2 separate regions of the Homo sapiens genome follow, and region 1 is linked to region 2. A link means that fine-mapping ties the variant in region 2 to the expression of a gene that starts in the linked region. Tissue or cell type: whole blood. Region 2 holds a variant in brackets; the other region holds the start of a gene. All regions are shown on one strand. Distances are from middle to middle.

Evidence for each region. PIP is the estimated chance that this variant, and not a neighbour inherited with it, causes the effect.
Region 1: HOTAIRM1 starts here. The variant in region 2 is fine-mapped to the expression of HOTAIRM1 in whole blood (INTERVAL, PIP above 0.99).

Annotation. Positions count from the first base shown.
Region 1 is chr7:27,093,959-27,098,958 of GRCh38, forward strand. HOTAIRM1 (HOXA transcript antisense RNA, myeloid-specific 1) reads left to right here and starts at 2,136. Exons shown (of 2, transcript NR_038367.1): 1 at 2,136-2,430. It overlaps HOXA1 (homeobox A1), which reads right to left and starts at 2,042. Exons shown (of 2, transcript NM_005522.5): 1 at 1,303-2,042; 2 at 1-837. The coding sequence starts at 1,954. The coding sequence ends at 482. RefSeq lists enhancers at 129-629, 630-1,130, 2,012-2,306, 2,432-3,004 and a silencer at 2,359-2,528.
Region 2 is chr7:26,906,354-26,917,355 of GRCh38, forward strand. No RefSeq gene overlaps it. Among named protein-coding and RNA genes, the nearest start is that of SKAP2, 47 kb to the left of the region's middle. The variant T/C (reference allele first, on the strand shown) is at 6,167.

The sequences.
Region 1 (5,000 bases), 180 kb after region 2:
TAAATTAAGGGATGAATTAATTGTGTAAACATATAGTGCATCTCTTCTTCCTGAGCTCCTGGACTCGCCTTTCGCTATATCCTACTTTCAAGGACAAGGGAGGGGAGAGCTGTACATATAGTTAGATAAAAGATGAGAAGATTCCTTCTGGCATGTTTCTGTTGGCAAAGGGAACTATTTTCCAAAAGGTCATCTGAAAGGAACAGTAGGTTCTGTGAATTCTCCTAAAAGCAGGAGGGATGTTAAGGCCCACCAGAAAATGTATGCTGGCACCCAATCTGGATGAAGGTGTTAACCCCGCACCAAGTCTCTGGTCCAGAATTATCTGCAAATATATTATCCTGGCCAGGAGCTCCCCAGATAGGATTAGAAAGGAAGAAAGAGACTGTAAATGGAAAGAAAGATAAGCTAAGCATGTGCTTTGGGTAAGAAGTCCCAGCCCAAGGAGATGCCTGGGCTGTTGTCTGGGGCTGGAGCCGCCTCAGTGGGAGGTAGTCAGAGTGTCTGAGGTAGAAGACCCCGGGGAAGGAACGCAGGGCGAAGAGCTGGACTTCTCTGAGGATTCCTCGGCCTTCTCGTCGTTTCCTGGCGGGGTGGCCGGAGAGATGGGCAAGAGACCCTCCTTCTCACGTTTCTTTTGCTTCATTCGGCGGTTCTGGAACCAGATCTTCACTTGGGTCTCGTTGAGCTGCAGGGATGCAGCGATCTCCACCCTGCGGGCGCGCGTCAGGTACTTGTTGAAGTGGAACTCCTTCTCCAGTTCCGTGAGCTGCTTGGTAGTGAAGTTGGTGCGCACCGCGTTGGGTTGACCCAGGTAGCCGTACTCTCCAACTTTCCCTGGGGCAAAGTGGGAAGCCATGAGACGGAAATGTAAAAATTTTTAAATCGACTTGAGATTCCCCACACGCTTCATGGCAACACTCAGGTAAAGAAAAGATCAAGAACTCAGCACAAATCGGGCTGTGGAGGGTGAGTGATGAGGTGTAAAGTGTTAACCTGATGTAAACCATTAGCATGGTCAGACCGGTGATTAATGGAGCCTCAAGATATTAACAGAACACTACCGTCACAATAACCACCCCCACATACTTCCTATTTCCCAAATGTATAAAATCCTTGAAAACACACCAATCCCTGAGACTTCTTTGCCCCAACACCTCTGGGCACCCTCTCCATGCACTACAACACTAGTCTGATACAAAAGCCTTTTAAAAAAAAGATCATTATTAATTTCCTTGGAAATTAAGCATACCAGCTCCTTCCAGAATAATCAAGGAGCATCCACCAACCAGCAGGACTGACCTGTTTTGGGAGGGTTTCTTTTGACTTTCATCCAGTCAAAAGTCTGCGCTGGAGAAGATGTCTCCGATGCGGGGGAGCGACAGGCTTCTTGGTGGCTGGCGTGGAGAGGGGACAAGGAGTTATTATACGTAGCCAGGGCCAGGCTCTGGTGCTCCTGTCCATATGAGTGGTGAATGTATTGAGGCGAGCCCACCGCGCCCCCAGCATAACCCTGGTGGTGGTGGTGATGCTGGACCATGGGAGATGAGAGATTTCCAGAGTAAACAGCGGGAGCGCACTGGGGGTACCCACCACTTACGTCTGCTTCCTGATTTAACGCGTAGGGGCTGTAAGGCGCACTGAAGTTCTGTGAGCCATAGCTTGGACCACAACTTGAGTGGGAGTAGGACACCCCCAGGTTCCCGGAAGTCTGGTAGGTAGCCGGCTGGGGGTGGCGATGGTGGTGGTGGTGGTGGTGGTGGGGCGAACCGATCTGCACCCCCCTGCCCACTAGGAAGCGGTCGTCGCCGCCGCAACTGTTGGCGCTGACCGCGCACGACTGGAAAGTTGTAATCCTATGGTCCGAGGGGTAGGCTCGGGCTGAGCAGGTCCCCGAGTCGCCACTGCTAAGTATGGGGTATTCCAGGAAGGAGTTCATTCTTGCATTGTCCATCTGTCACTGAGTGACCTGGTCCTGCGAAGCCCGGCGTGACTGTGCCAACTTTCTCACTTCCTCCATGGGGCCGGAGAAGAAAAATGATATGAATGTACAGTGCGCAAGAGGGGGGGCGGGAGGGCGGAGGACGCTGGAGGAGGGGCACGTGACGGTGTCAGCCAATGGCTGAGCCTCCTGCAAAAGTTTGCCGGCTTCCGCAGTGATGGATCACCGTTTTAGTGGCATTTAAATCCCCGGCGCTCCGCCGTCTAGGTGACGCGCAGTCGCCCCCCCAGGCAGCCTAGGCGGCGGCAGCTGCTGCGGCGACTGCAAAGGCCGATTTGGAGTGCTGGAGCGAAGAAGAGCAAAAGCTGCGTTCTGCGCGCGCCCGACTCCGCTGCCCGCCCCGCCAGGCCTCCGGGAGGTGGGGGCTGGGAGGCGTCCCCCGCTCCCGCCCCCTCCCCACCGTTCAATGAAAGATGAACTGGCGAGAGGTGAGAAGGGAAGAGGGCTCCCGGCTCTCTCGGGGCGGGAATCAGTGGGCCAGAGCTCGCCGGGTGGCCGCAAGTACGCCGGCCCAGCCCGCAGCGCGCCCAGCCGGAAGGCGGGGAATCCGGCTGACACCGCGCCCCGGGTTCCCAGGCCACCTCCTCTGTTCTGAGGCTGGGCTGGGAGACCGTGGGGCTGTGAGGAGCGCATAGAACCGTGGTGGAGGGCGAGGCTGGGCCACCGGCTCTTCAAGCTCGGAATGGAGGGGGAAGAGCGCAGAGGGCTGGCTGGGAGGAACTCGGGTGGGCGTGAAGGAGACGAGGGCAAGAAAAGAAACTTCCCTTCTTCCAGGAGGGTCTTCGAAACCCTCTCCCCACAGCCCCTCTCGTCATTAGCATGGCAATGAGGAGTTTCTGTAATTCGACTTGGAGGGGCGGATGAGCCCTGGAAACTCAGAGCTCGCCGGAAAAGGCCGGGGGCGGCCGGGCTCTTCTTCCCCACCTTCCCTCTCTCGTCGCTCTCCGCCCCTTTCTCTTTCCCACTCAGTTTTGCACCGGGAGCCCTCCGGGATGCGGAGCTACTCGACCGCCGGATTTTTAGGGGTAGGAGGCGGGGGAGAGAGATGACGCTGGCGGACGTGGCCAGCGCGGGGGCCGGGCGGTGCGCTGCAGGCCATCTGCCGGCGCCCTGAGACCCAGGAGCCTCCGCGCTCCCGCGTGGGCCTCACAGGGCCGGTCCACAGCTCCAACATAGTAGCTGAACTCCCTTCGTTGCGTTCCTCTTTTTCTGGAGGGGAATGTTAGAAGAGAGAGAGAGCTTCCTTTTATAACCTTCCTCATTCTGCTGCACGTCTAGAGTGGGTGTGGGGGCTGGCAGGTGGGAGGGGCGGTGGACAAATGGCTGATGGTGGACGGGACACTTTACCCCAACGACACCTCCTCCCCTTTCCAACTGGCTGTGTAGTTGCTTATGAGAACCTTCAAGTCCTTCCCTAGAGAGACACATGCAAATCTGAGCCTCATCCCAGGCCAGGGGTCCTGTTCCTCATCACCCTACTTCCCTGAGGCTGCTGAGGTCGTTAAATTGTTGTTTACTATTAGGTTTCACGTCAACCCTGGGCTTGTAGAGAGAAAAAGCCAAACGGAGACCAAGAATTGATGCAGTCTTGGGTAGGAGAAATCGAGAGCTTGTCCAGGAAGCTTTGCTGTATAAATTATAAGCAATGCTGTATAAATTTTACTCCAACCATGTGTACAATGTTGGAATCAGATGAAATTTATAGTGAATGAATGTATGTGGGTTTGGGGTTTCCACTCCTCTTCAGCCTTTCCTCCCGTTAGAACAAGGAAGGTTTTTTTTTTTTCAAGGAAGGTACATTTCAAATATGTTAGTCACCCTTTCAGTCTTCTGTATTCTGTTCTCCACGTACCGAAGTTCCCCCAAACCTGTCCTCTCAAGAGAAAAAACCCATGCTGACTCTGGACTCCCTCAGTAACAATGAAACATTCTCCCCAAACATTTCCTTTCAGAATAGTATTTGTGACTTTGATCCATCCCAAGCATGGTTAAGAGGGAGCACGGGCAGGAAAGGCCCACTTTCTGGGGTTGGGCAGCCACCCCTGCCCCAGTTTCGGCTCCTGGGAATCCTCCGACTGGAGAAGGGGAAAGGCAAGGCAGTCCTCCTGGAGGCGGCTTCCTTGGGAGCACCAGCTTCCAGCGGCGGGGAGAGAAGGAGCTCCTGTGGGAGAGGGGGCAGGATGTGAGTAGGTCGGTGCTGGCTATGCGAGCAATCCTCCCTCCAAGCCTGAGCAAGTCGGTACATTTTCCCCCGCTGCCTCATTCCTGTACCTTGGTTGCCCTCCTCAGCCTGGGTTTGCAGGACCCCCTCGGCTGCAGGGCGCCTGCCACAAAGCCGACCCCGGCAGGAGCCACTCTCTCTGCTAGTTCGCTGCCTCGGCCCTGCTCTCCCTCAGCCTCTCTTCTTCTCTCCTGGCCTCTTTTCTGGGGCATCCTGGGTGGAGTGTTTTTCTTGGGATCACGAGCTTGCACTCGCACACAGGCCCGCAGACACACAGGCCCGGCGGCCGCCCTTCTCCGCTTACTGTTCCCGGCTCCCCGCAGGCCGGGTGCTCGCAGCCGGGCTGGCTATGCCTCGCCTGGCAGCCCAGAGCGCCGCTCCCCGGGAACAGCACACAAAGGCAGCCTCCCCTGGCCTCTAGCCCTTAGGCTTCTGTAGCTCAGTTCTTTCCCCACACCCCTCCCCCAAGAAATTCTGGGGGCCGTTCCACCGAGTAGGAGATCCTTGGCCCTCTAGGCAAGTAGGTCAGCGCCCCAAGACTGGAGCTGGTCTCTTTCAACGCCTTGGGAGACTGGGTGAAAGGCGAGCTTGGTTACGCTTAAAATGATCGCCTACAAGCGGTTCTCTTGGCTCAAAACGCCTCTTTCAGGGCTCTTATGCTAGAAAGGAAAGGAATAAGGAGGAGATAAAATGACGCCGAGGCCCTGAACTGTTCATGGCATCCGCGGCTCAGCCAAGCTGTTGTTTTAAAAGAGCAATAAAAATGAATTATGACTA
Region 2 (11,002 bases):
TTTTTTTATATGATCAGTATAGGAAATGGGCATTGACACTGAGTACTCTATTACAGGGCTGTATGAATGCAGAAGGCTCACAAGTTGAAGGAAATTGTAGCTAATATTTCAGGTTATTCAGGGCAGAAGAAATCATCTCATTATTTGTGTTCCATTTATGACTGGAAACTCATCCTCTCAAATATTGCCATGATTTTCAGCAAGCAAGATCATTTAGGTTTACCATCTCGGGGGCTATTATGAAATATTGGGTGGACATTACTGGGTTCATGTACTTGTTTACTTCTTTCATTTTTCTCTTTGCTGACCAAAGGAAATTACAAACCATTATGTGCAACTGTGTATCATTACAGATTTATGAGAGAATAAATGGCTCCTCTGACAGATTTAAGAATGCAAAAGCCTTAAGGAGATACTTTCCTCAAAATATAATTCCATTTCCCACTCCCAAAATTGATCTCTCTCAAACTCCCTTCTCCTCTGGAACTGCTACTCCCAGTGCAGAGAAAACAGAACATATATATGTATATATGTGTGTGTGTGTGTGTGTGTGTGTACATATACATATATATATGTACACACACACATTATATATATATATAATTTGAAATTTCATTCACTCTACTATAGTCAATTCTTCAAGTTCATAGTTGTATTCAGTATTCATCTTAATGGCAAGATCAATCTTATGGAAAATATCAGTTCTGTAATAATAAAGAAAGGAGTATAAAAGCTTGTGAGTGGTAAACCATGCCCCTCAAAGTATAACAGTTTTAACTCAACTAGAACTCAAATAATGAAGGCTAAGAACTAAGACTAAGACTTAATTCCAAGACTAATAATTCTATACTCAATGATTTTGAGTATGGAATTCTCAAATAAAAGGAAGAGTTAAACTCACCATAAAGATCCAAAGAAACATAGTTTGATGAAGTCATGAACAACTATTATGCCAAATGCACAGTATTAGTAAATCTTCACACAGTCTTGATTAGGTAGCATAATAAGAAAGTCAATGATTGGTAAGGTAACCAATCAAGCTGTTAATAAAGTGAATTCCCCTCAGTACTAGAATAAAGAAGATAAGCAAAACTGAAGTGAAAAGAAAAGAATTGTGGTAGACTGTGAAAGGTGGCCCACAAATTTGCATATGTGACTTTGTACCACGATGACTTTGTGCACTATGAGTTTGTACCATATGGATGAGCCTGAACTAGCCCTACTAATGATGATAGATACATGGCTATCACTTCACCAGACATAGAACAATCACCAGACATGTGTGGAACCATCCTAGACAATCTAGCTATCTTTTTTGATGGAAGAAATACACAGTCAACCCACAAAACTGTGAGAAATAATAGATATTATTATAATTCACAAAGCTTTGGATAGTTTATTATGGTGCAAAAGCTAACTGATAAAGAAAATGGTACTAGGACTGAAGTGCTGCTGTTACAGCAACCTGAAATATGTAGCATTAGCTTTGGGACAAGGTGATGGATAGAGGCTGGACAAGTGACAGGAAAACTGTTAGCCAAAATTGAGAAAATAGAGAATAAATTGTTAGGAGCAAGAAAAGTGGTAAGAAACTGCTATAGCACTCAGGAAAAATGGCAATCTGTATTATATAGTAGTGCAACAATAGCAAAACTGTTGCCTATGATAATATGGAAGATAGAAAATTTACCCGATGGGCCAGGTATGGTGGTTCACACCTGTCATCCCAGCACTTTGGGAGGCCGAGGCAGGCAGATCAGCTGAGGTCAGGAGTTGGAGACCAACCTAGCCAACATGGTGAAACCCCATCTCTACTGAAAAAATACAAAAATTAGCCAGGCGTGATGGCGGGTGCCTGTAATCCCAGCTCCTCAGGAGGCTGAGGCAGGAGAATCGCTTGAACCCGAGAGGTGGAGTTTGCAGTGAGCCGAGATCGTGCCACTGCACCCCAGCCTGGGCAACAGAATGAGACTCTAAAGGAAAAAAAAATAAAAAGAGAGAAAGAGAGAAAGAAAGAAGAAAGAGAAAGAAAGAAAGAAAAAGAAAGAAAGAAAGAAAGAAAGAAAGAAAGAAAGAAAGAAAGAAAGAAAGAAAGAAAGAAAGAAAGAAAGAAAAGAAAGGGGAGGGGAAGGGAGGGGAACGGAGGGGAAGGGGAGGGGAGGGGAAGGGGAAGGGGAAGGGGAAGGGGAAGGGGAAGGGAATTTACCCAGTGGATTAGAGAATCAGCTAAGGAGATTCCCAGGCAAAATATTGAAGGAATAGATGTTTTTTAATTGTATAAGATAACATACAAAAACAAGAGAGAGCTAAAGAAAGAACTGTGCAGTTTTCCTGCAGAGTTCATAAGCAATATAAAGGAGCCAGGACTTGAGAGCTGGGGGAAAGACCCTTCATATTTCTGGTCTCTCTAGCCATTAAAAGATTCTCAAAGTAATAAATGACTGGCTGGGTGTAGTGGCTCATGCCTGTAATCCCAGCACTTTGGGAAGCCAAGGTGAGATGATCATTTGAGGCCAGGAATTTGAGGTTACAGTGAGCTATGATCATGGCACTGCACTCCTGTCTTGGCAACAGAGCAAGACCCTGTCTCAAAAAAAAAAAAAAAAAAAAAAAAAAGAAAGGAAATGACTTCACAGTGAAAATCCAGATCAAGGGTGTGGCTGAAAGGCCCCTTGTTAAACAACTGAATGGTGTAAGGTGGTGCCTAGAATCTTTTTTTTTTTTTTTTTGAGATGGGGTCTTGCTCTGTAGCCAGGCTGGAGTGCAGTGGTGCGATCTCGGCTCATTGCAACCTCCACCTCTCGGGATCAAGCGATTCTCCTGCCTCAGCTTCCCAAGTAGCTGGGACTACTTGGGAGGCCACCACGCCCAGCTAATTTTTGTATTTTTAGTAGAGATGGGGTTTCACCATGTTGGCCAGAATGGTCTCGATCTCTTGATTTCGTGATCTGCCCACTTCAGCCTCCCAGAGTGCTGGGATTACAGGCGTGAGCCACCACGCCCAGTCGGTGGTGCCTACAATCTTAAGGATGTATCACAGCAGCCTGGTATACGGCCCAAAGATGAGAGTGACTTTCTCAAAAATAATTAGTGATGTGGTCTTTAGGGCATGGAATAGGCCCAAACCATATTCATAGGAGGTCCACAAAGTTCCAAAAAGTTTTTAAAAGAGTTAGACTGATAAAAATCCCTGCAAGCTTGGACAAAAAAAAAAGTTCAAAATGAGAAGATTTCTCTGGGCCTCCAAATTTTCACATACAGAGAGCAGGCTAAGAAAGCCACCCACCTGCAAATATGAGCTATTTTTTATTGAAAACTAAGAGTGTCTCAGAGGGTAGAGAAAAGAGCCCATAGTACAACAAACCTCCTTCCTCTGAGAAGAACATCAGAGGACAGTAAGTTATAGAATTGAGCCTTGGAAGAACTGAAGCCTAATCAAAAAACGTTCTCTGCTTCTTGAATAGAGGGACCCCAGCAACATCTGACAAGCTAGACTTCAGAATTTTTATGGACTACTAACTGTTACATATCTCTCATTTCTTCCCTTCTTTAAATGAGAGTATTTGTCGCTCTATTTTAAGTAGGGTATGGGGGCAGATAGCTTCAAGAGGAGCTGCACCTGAAATGCTGCACCTTATCCACTTCTAAACTAACTGCAGATCACAAGATCATAAACTTCAATACTGATACCTTGGAACAAAATAATGGGGGGGATTTTCATGAAAGCAAGGATTTTTCTCTGTTTTTCTCCTTGTTGTATTCCAAACACCTAGGACAGTGATAGGTTCATGATAGGCCCTCAATAAATATTTATTGAATTAATGAATAAACTCTTTAAAAAGTTTAAACTCACGTATCATTTCATTGCTCTTTTTGTATCGTATTAGCAGACATTTGTGGTTTTCATTGCCAAAAAACAAAAAACACAGGCCAGGCATAGTGGCTCATGCCTGTAATCCCAGCACTTCAGGAGGCTGAAGCAGGAAGATCACTTCAGCCTAGGAGGTCAAGGCTGCAGTGAGTCATGATCGCCCCACCGCATTCCAGCCTGGGTGACAGAGCAAGATGCTGTTGCACAAACAACAACAACAAAACCCCAATGTGACCTAAATGTGGTATCCTGTTCCCAATAGTAGTTACTTTCAAAAAGAGGTAAAACCTCAATGTGAATCCAGCCACTTGCTCAGAGGAGCATCATAAGGAAATAAGAGAAGTCCTTCAAAGCTCCTAGTGAGCGGAGATCAGCTTGTACCCTGAAGCATGAGATTCTATTAGTACCTTTTGTTAGTATTCATAACTAACAGTATTATGACTGGTCATACAATTATCTAGCTTTTCTAATTCATCTCTTGACTGAATCTATGACCTCCCAGGCTAATAAATTCCACAGGTTGGCCATACATTGGGCAAAGAAATATTTTCCTTATGCTTTTTAAATTCTAAATTTATTTCAGCCATTAATTTTACAGAATGAGTGACCCTTGTCTTAACAGTTGGAAGACATAAAATTAAGTAAATTGGACCTCCAATAAGAATGTCATTTTAGCAGTTTTGTGTGGTAATGTTTCATTTATCACGTGAACATGTGGCTGTGTTAGAAGAGTATCAATAGGTAATTATTTTCCTTTCAGATTTTTACTTTCACAGTAGAACAGAAAGGAAATTTCAGGATAAAGATAAAGAGAAAAGAAAGAAAACAAACAAGGGATATATGACACTGTCTGGATCATGGACTGCTATCATTCTACCTGTGTTCTTTAAAATTGCTATGTTCTAAGATAATAAGATAAAAAAAAATGGATTCAATCAGTTTTAAAGCTGAAATTTTCCTGGGTAACAATAACAGCATTTGACTATGTTTATCCCTTAGATTAGAAGCAAATGAAAGAAAAAGGATTTGCTGTTGACGGAATTTTATTCTTAAGGCTAATGGTGCCTGTAAAACAATTAACAAAGTATTTTTTAATATAATTACTGCCTGGGATCTGTGTGTATGTGTCATTTTTCACAGTCTGTTTCATTGAAATGTATAAGGTCAGCTAATAAGAAGCAGTTTGCTGGCCAGGCATGGTGGTTCATGCCTGTAATCCCAGCACTTGGGGAGGCAGAGGTGGGTGGATCATGAGGTCAGGAGTTGGAGACCAGCTTGGCCAACATGGTGAAACCCCATCTCTACTGAAAGTACAAAAATTAGCCGGGCATGGTGGAGCATGCCTGTATTCCCAGCTACTCGGGAGGCTGAAGCAGAAGAATCACTTGAACCCGGGAGGCGGAGGTTGCAGTGAGCAGAGATCGCGCCACTGCACTCCAGCCTGGGTGACACAGCAAGACAGCAAGACTCCGTCTCCAAAAAAAAAAAAAAAGAAGAAGAAGAAGAAGCTGCTGTCTGCTGCGTGATTAATCAGGAATCAGGTTGGGGGCCTCAGTAGGATTAAGCCTTGGAATAAACAAGGATTATTTATTTATTTAGCTTTGGTAATTTGGAAAAGCTTTACTCACTGAACTAATCACAAATTTTTTTGTAAGAACACAAGATTCCCCATTATTTAAGTTTACACTCCTGATAACCTCTTTTTTTTTTTTTTTAGACAGGGTCTTGTTCTGTCACCCATGCTGGAGTGCAATGGCTCGATCACAGCTCACTGCAGCCTTGACCTCCTGGGCTCAAGCAATCCTCCCACCTCAGCTGGGATAACAGGCATGCATTACCATGCCTGGCTAATTTTTGTATTTTTTGTAGAGATGGAGTTTTGCCATGTTGCCTAGGCTGGCCTCAAACTCCTGGGCTCAAGGAATCCTCCTGCCTTGACCTCCCAAATTACGGAGATTACAGGCATGAGCCACCACATCTGGTCCCAATGATTATTAGGAATAATACACAATCTTAATACAGAGCAAGAAATGGTGGACATTGGGGAGTAAAACAGTGAAGCATTTTGCCACTGATGGGTTTCAGAGAATGAAAATGTGCACACTGATAAAATAACTAATATTGAAGATTATAATGTATTGTTAATCAATATCTGCATATGTTGGCACACATGCATTAGAAAAAAAAATTACAGCTGGAAAGAATTTTGCAATCATATGGCACAACTTCAACATTTCAGTGAAGAGGAACTATGAACCTGAGAAGTGATGTGTACAAGGTAACAGAGCTACTTAA[T/C]GGAAGGCAGAAAGGTTGGGCAACAGTGCTAACTTTCTTCAACAGCAACAATTCTGCCTAGGTCATAATAACATCTTGAAAAAGGAGAACCCTCTGACATGTGACCAAAGTCTGGTCACCTTTAAGATTTCACCCCAGGCTGTTTTTTGCTCAAGCCCAGATAAATCTGCTCTCTTTCTCCAGAGCCTGGAATGCTAGAAAGACTCTTTTACTTTGGGCACAATCAGTGGAAAAGCAACTTAGAAACTTACAAGGAAAGAGTTGCAGTGGTGCTTCTTCCTCCATAATCTCCCTGCCAAAAGATTAGAGTAACTAAATTCTTTTCAGTAGTGTAGCCTTCAATACATATGACAACACTCATGAGTGTGTTGATCTAATATATACTAAGATATTATTTCTAAAAACGTATGATTCAAATTTTCTTTATATTATGACAAATAATTATAATATTAGGTCACATATTATGGGTCTGGCCAGAGGCATGGAATCATGCTACTGTTGCTTCTACTACCACTAGTTCTCTACTCTATAGAGATATTTTTATGCTTTGTATGTCATTCTGTCACATGAAGTGTGTTGTAATGAGTATATTTATGAGTCTAGCCATTGGGAGTGGAAACTGATGTATTATGTAGCCTTGCACCTCATGTGCAGCTGAATTATAATGTAGATCTTAACAGCCAAGAAGTCTGTAATCAGAGAAAAAAAGAATTTCAAAACATAAACTATGTTCTTGGCACTAGCCTTGAATACTGGACATTCATAACCCACAAGTGCCCAGACTATAAATTTGCAAGTTGCATTAATACGGCAGTAAAAGTCACTCTTCTGAAAGCTGCACTTGTAAAATATTTATAAATTCACATGGTTGTTCCTGGCAAATATCTACATCTGTCAGCTCTGTCTTTTTGCTCCCAAAGCAGCAGAGTTGGTGTCCTGTGTAATTCACAATATGTTCATAAAAAATTATTTTGAAAAATCAAGATAGAAGATATTTTATTCTAAGGGGCAATATATCTGCTCCTCCAATGGTATGGTGTTACTATTTGATCTCCTGAGATCCTTTCTCATCAAGTCTTTTTCTCTGAACAAGATTCCAAATTAGCAAGGCAAGTCCTGTGGAGTTGTCTTTAAAATCTCACATTAATATGTACAACACAGGCCAGGCACGGTGGCTCACACCTGTAATACCAGCACTTTGGGAGGCTGAGGCAGGCAGATCACCTGAAGTCAAGAGTTCGAGATCAGCCTGGTCAACATGCTGAAACCCAGACTCTACTAAAAATTCAAAAAATCACCAAGGGTGGTGGTGGGCACCTGTAACCCCAGCTACTTGAGAGACTGAAGTGGGGGAATCACTTGAACTCGGGAGGCGGAGGTTGCAGTAAGCGGAGATGGCGCTACCGCAGTCCAGCCTGGGCAACACAGTGAGACTCAGCCTCAAAAAAAAAAAAAGAAAAAAGTACAACACAGTGGAGTTTTTCCTTCCCAAGTCAATATGTATATCAATGTCACATGGTAAAGGAATTTTCTATGTACATAATCTCCCTATAGTATTTAGGAGATGCTTCATATAGGAGACCTTCTAGATAGACCTGTCTAGATAATTTTTTTTTTCTTAAGCCAGGAAAAAAAATTAAAAGACATCAGATTACATTTTCATATAGATGTATACCATACCGATGTAGTCCATTATTTCTAGTGGGGAGAAAGCCCCCCAAAATCATACCTACTAACAGACTGAGTACTTGACAATAAAATATGCTGTTGTATTTGTATTTGTTTAATTTTTACTGCCATCTAGCTTTTCCTTCCCTCTCTCCCCATGAAAAAGGATTTAGGGGCCGGGCACGGTGGCTCACGCCTGTAATCCCAGCACTTTGGGAGGCCAAGGCAGGTGGAGCACAAGGTCAGGAGATCGACACCATCCTGGCTAACACAGTGAAAGCCTGTCTCTACTAAAAATACAAAAAATTAGCCAGGAGTGGTGGCGGGTGCCTGTAGTCCCAGCTACTAGGGAGGCTGAGGCAGGAGAATGGCATGAACCTGGGAGGCCAAGCTTGCAGTAAGCTGAGATCATGCCACTGCACTCCAGCCTGGGCGACAGAGCAAGACTCTGTCTCAAAAAAAGAAAAAAAAGAAAAAAAAAGAAAAAGGATTTAGGTTGTTTATAATGCAAACATAATTGTTATAAAGACAGAACAGTTAAAGGTGAGATCAGAAATATAAAACACCAGATAGTATTATAGTCCTTAAATTTGGGGAGATAATGCATCCCTTTGAGAATCTGATGAAAACTTTGTGCTCTTTCCCCAGAAAATGCAAATAAGTATATACAAACAAACAAAACACATAACACACACTTTTGTATACTAACTCAGGCATTCAGAGACCACCAACACCATTCCACAGACCACCACAGAGGAAGGAGAAAGAAAATGTATATCAGGAAACTAGAATAAAATTATTAGTACCATTAAGCATGAAGTTTAGCTCTAACTTTTAGTCAATACAGAAGGGAGAATTCAAAGGGTTTCACAGATCTCAATGTTTAACAGAGAAATACACATCAGGTTTTCAGGAGACATATTTTGAGAGGAATTTGTCGGGCGGATGAGTCTCGGATTTATTTTATTTTTTATTTTTTTTGAGACAGAGTCTTGCTCTGTCACCCAGGCTGGAGTGCAGTGGCGCGATCTCTGCTCACTGCAACCTCTGCCACTTGGGTTCAAGCGATTCTCCTGCCTCAGCCTCTGGAGTAACTGGGATTACAGGCGCCCGCCACCACACCTGGCTAATTTTTGTATTTTTAGTAGAGATGGGGGTTTCACCATCTTGGCCAGGCTGGTCTTGAACTCCTGACCTTGTGATCTACCTGCCTCGGCCTCCCAAAGTGCTGGGATTACAGGTGTGAGCCACTGCGCCTGGCCTCAGATTTATTATTAAATACACGATGCGCAATGCCTTTAACAGGAATTTTGCAAAAACGCAAAACTATTTTCACATGGCCATTTTTACATTGTTCCCTTAATAAATCTTGAGGATATTCTTAATAAGTAGTAATTCTTATGAGTAGTTATACCAACTGAGCCTAGATAATCTGGCTTCTGTATCTGACCTGACATAGCAACAAATGGTTTCTCTCTAGAGAAAGCTCCAGTATTCATAAGGCGCAATGTGCTTGCAGCAGCCTTCCTGGAACTACAACTAAGAAGCTGCAGCATCACCAAGGCCTCCTGAGAAATTGTACAGACTCACTAACCCACATACCTGGCAGGACTCATGTGTCAAAAAGGTGACTCTAAGCAAGACGCCAAGAAATACATGAATTTAAGAGGCAAAACTAAAAACTATAAATAGGTTAGAGTGTGAATGAAGGTGTACCCGCCTCGATTTCTGCTCACTGTGGAGAAGCCTATGGTTAAAGCACTGATCTTATTTTGTCCGTTAAAGCCCCTCCAATCAAGTATATGACCTGGGGATGGGAACACTGATTCCATACCAACTGAGGAGTAGAAGAATTCAAAGCTAAAGAACGAAGAATATTATTGCAGATTAAGAATATCATTAGACAGAAATTGACTGTCTGATTATGTTGATTCATCACATGCTATGCTGGTGATCAGCAGCCCAAATGATATACATATACCTTTTTTTTTTCCAAAGAAATTGTCATGTAATCTTTTTATAAGCAGTATGGACTGATACCTTACCAAGCCAGAAGAACAAAATTTCTTTTTCAGATGCTTATGACAAAAGGACTTGGAATTATCTGTCTAAATAATGTCAAAATAGCCATTATTTCCTTCCACAAATGAAGGAACAGGATTGGGGATTAACTTTGTGGAATTCAATTAATTTTGCACTTGGCATAGTATATGGAAACAGTTTACAACATTTGGGCTTGGAGACTCTGGGTTGAATATTTAAACCATTGCTTGAGACATAATCAGTGGATAGAAAATTCTAAGAACAGCAGCCCTACTCCAGAACTTCTAGTGGGTGACATCTGGGGTGAATTAAGTTTCTGTTCTGTCCCAGCTTTAGCTACAGATGTGGAGGTGTAAATGTGCTTTCCAGGAACTGTAGATTATATGAACATGATGTAGACTACTTTTATTAGGAGTTCAAGTACCACATTTCCAGAAATATAAAGAATGACAGCAAGGAAAAAGGCCTTTAGAGCTTAAATTACAACCACATCTAATGAACTCAGAGGTGTTTTTCACTTACTAGGGTATTGCTTTTCAACTCCTGTAGCTTAAATGAATCTAGTGATCATAACAGTAAATATGGTTTCCAAAGGTATCCCAAGAGGTATCATTAGTCACATATTACATCCTTTTCTAATTTGTACACTTTCCATGTTTCAGGGTTTCACAGGACTGCTGAAACCTCCAGAATTTCATGTTTCCCTCAGCAGTCTACAATAACCCTTAATCTGAATGACATGTATTATTTCCTCAGCAAACATGTGATGTGGGAAGCTTAGTAAAAGATTTATTATAAGAAAAGGCTCGATGTTTTATTTCCTCCCCTAATTGAATTCATTATTGCTCTCTGTTTAGAAATGCTATGTTGATGTATTACACCTCAGAACAACTATGAACGTGCCATCTGCAGCAGGAAGGTTTATTAGACTACAAATCAGGATACAGATGTTGGAGGGAAAGCTACGTATGCTAAGTCATAATACATTAAAGCACATTTTAAATCTATATATCATGGTGGTCCAGCAGATTTTTATTTTTTTAAATTAGGTATTGGTACTTATGAAAATTCAGGAACTAGAAGCCCTCTCTTCATATGCATGATAGATAAAGTGATAAGCTGCTG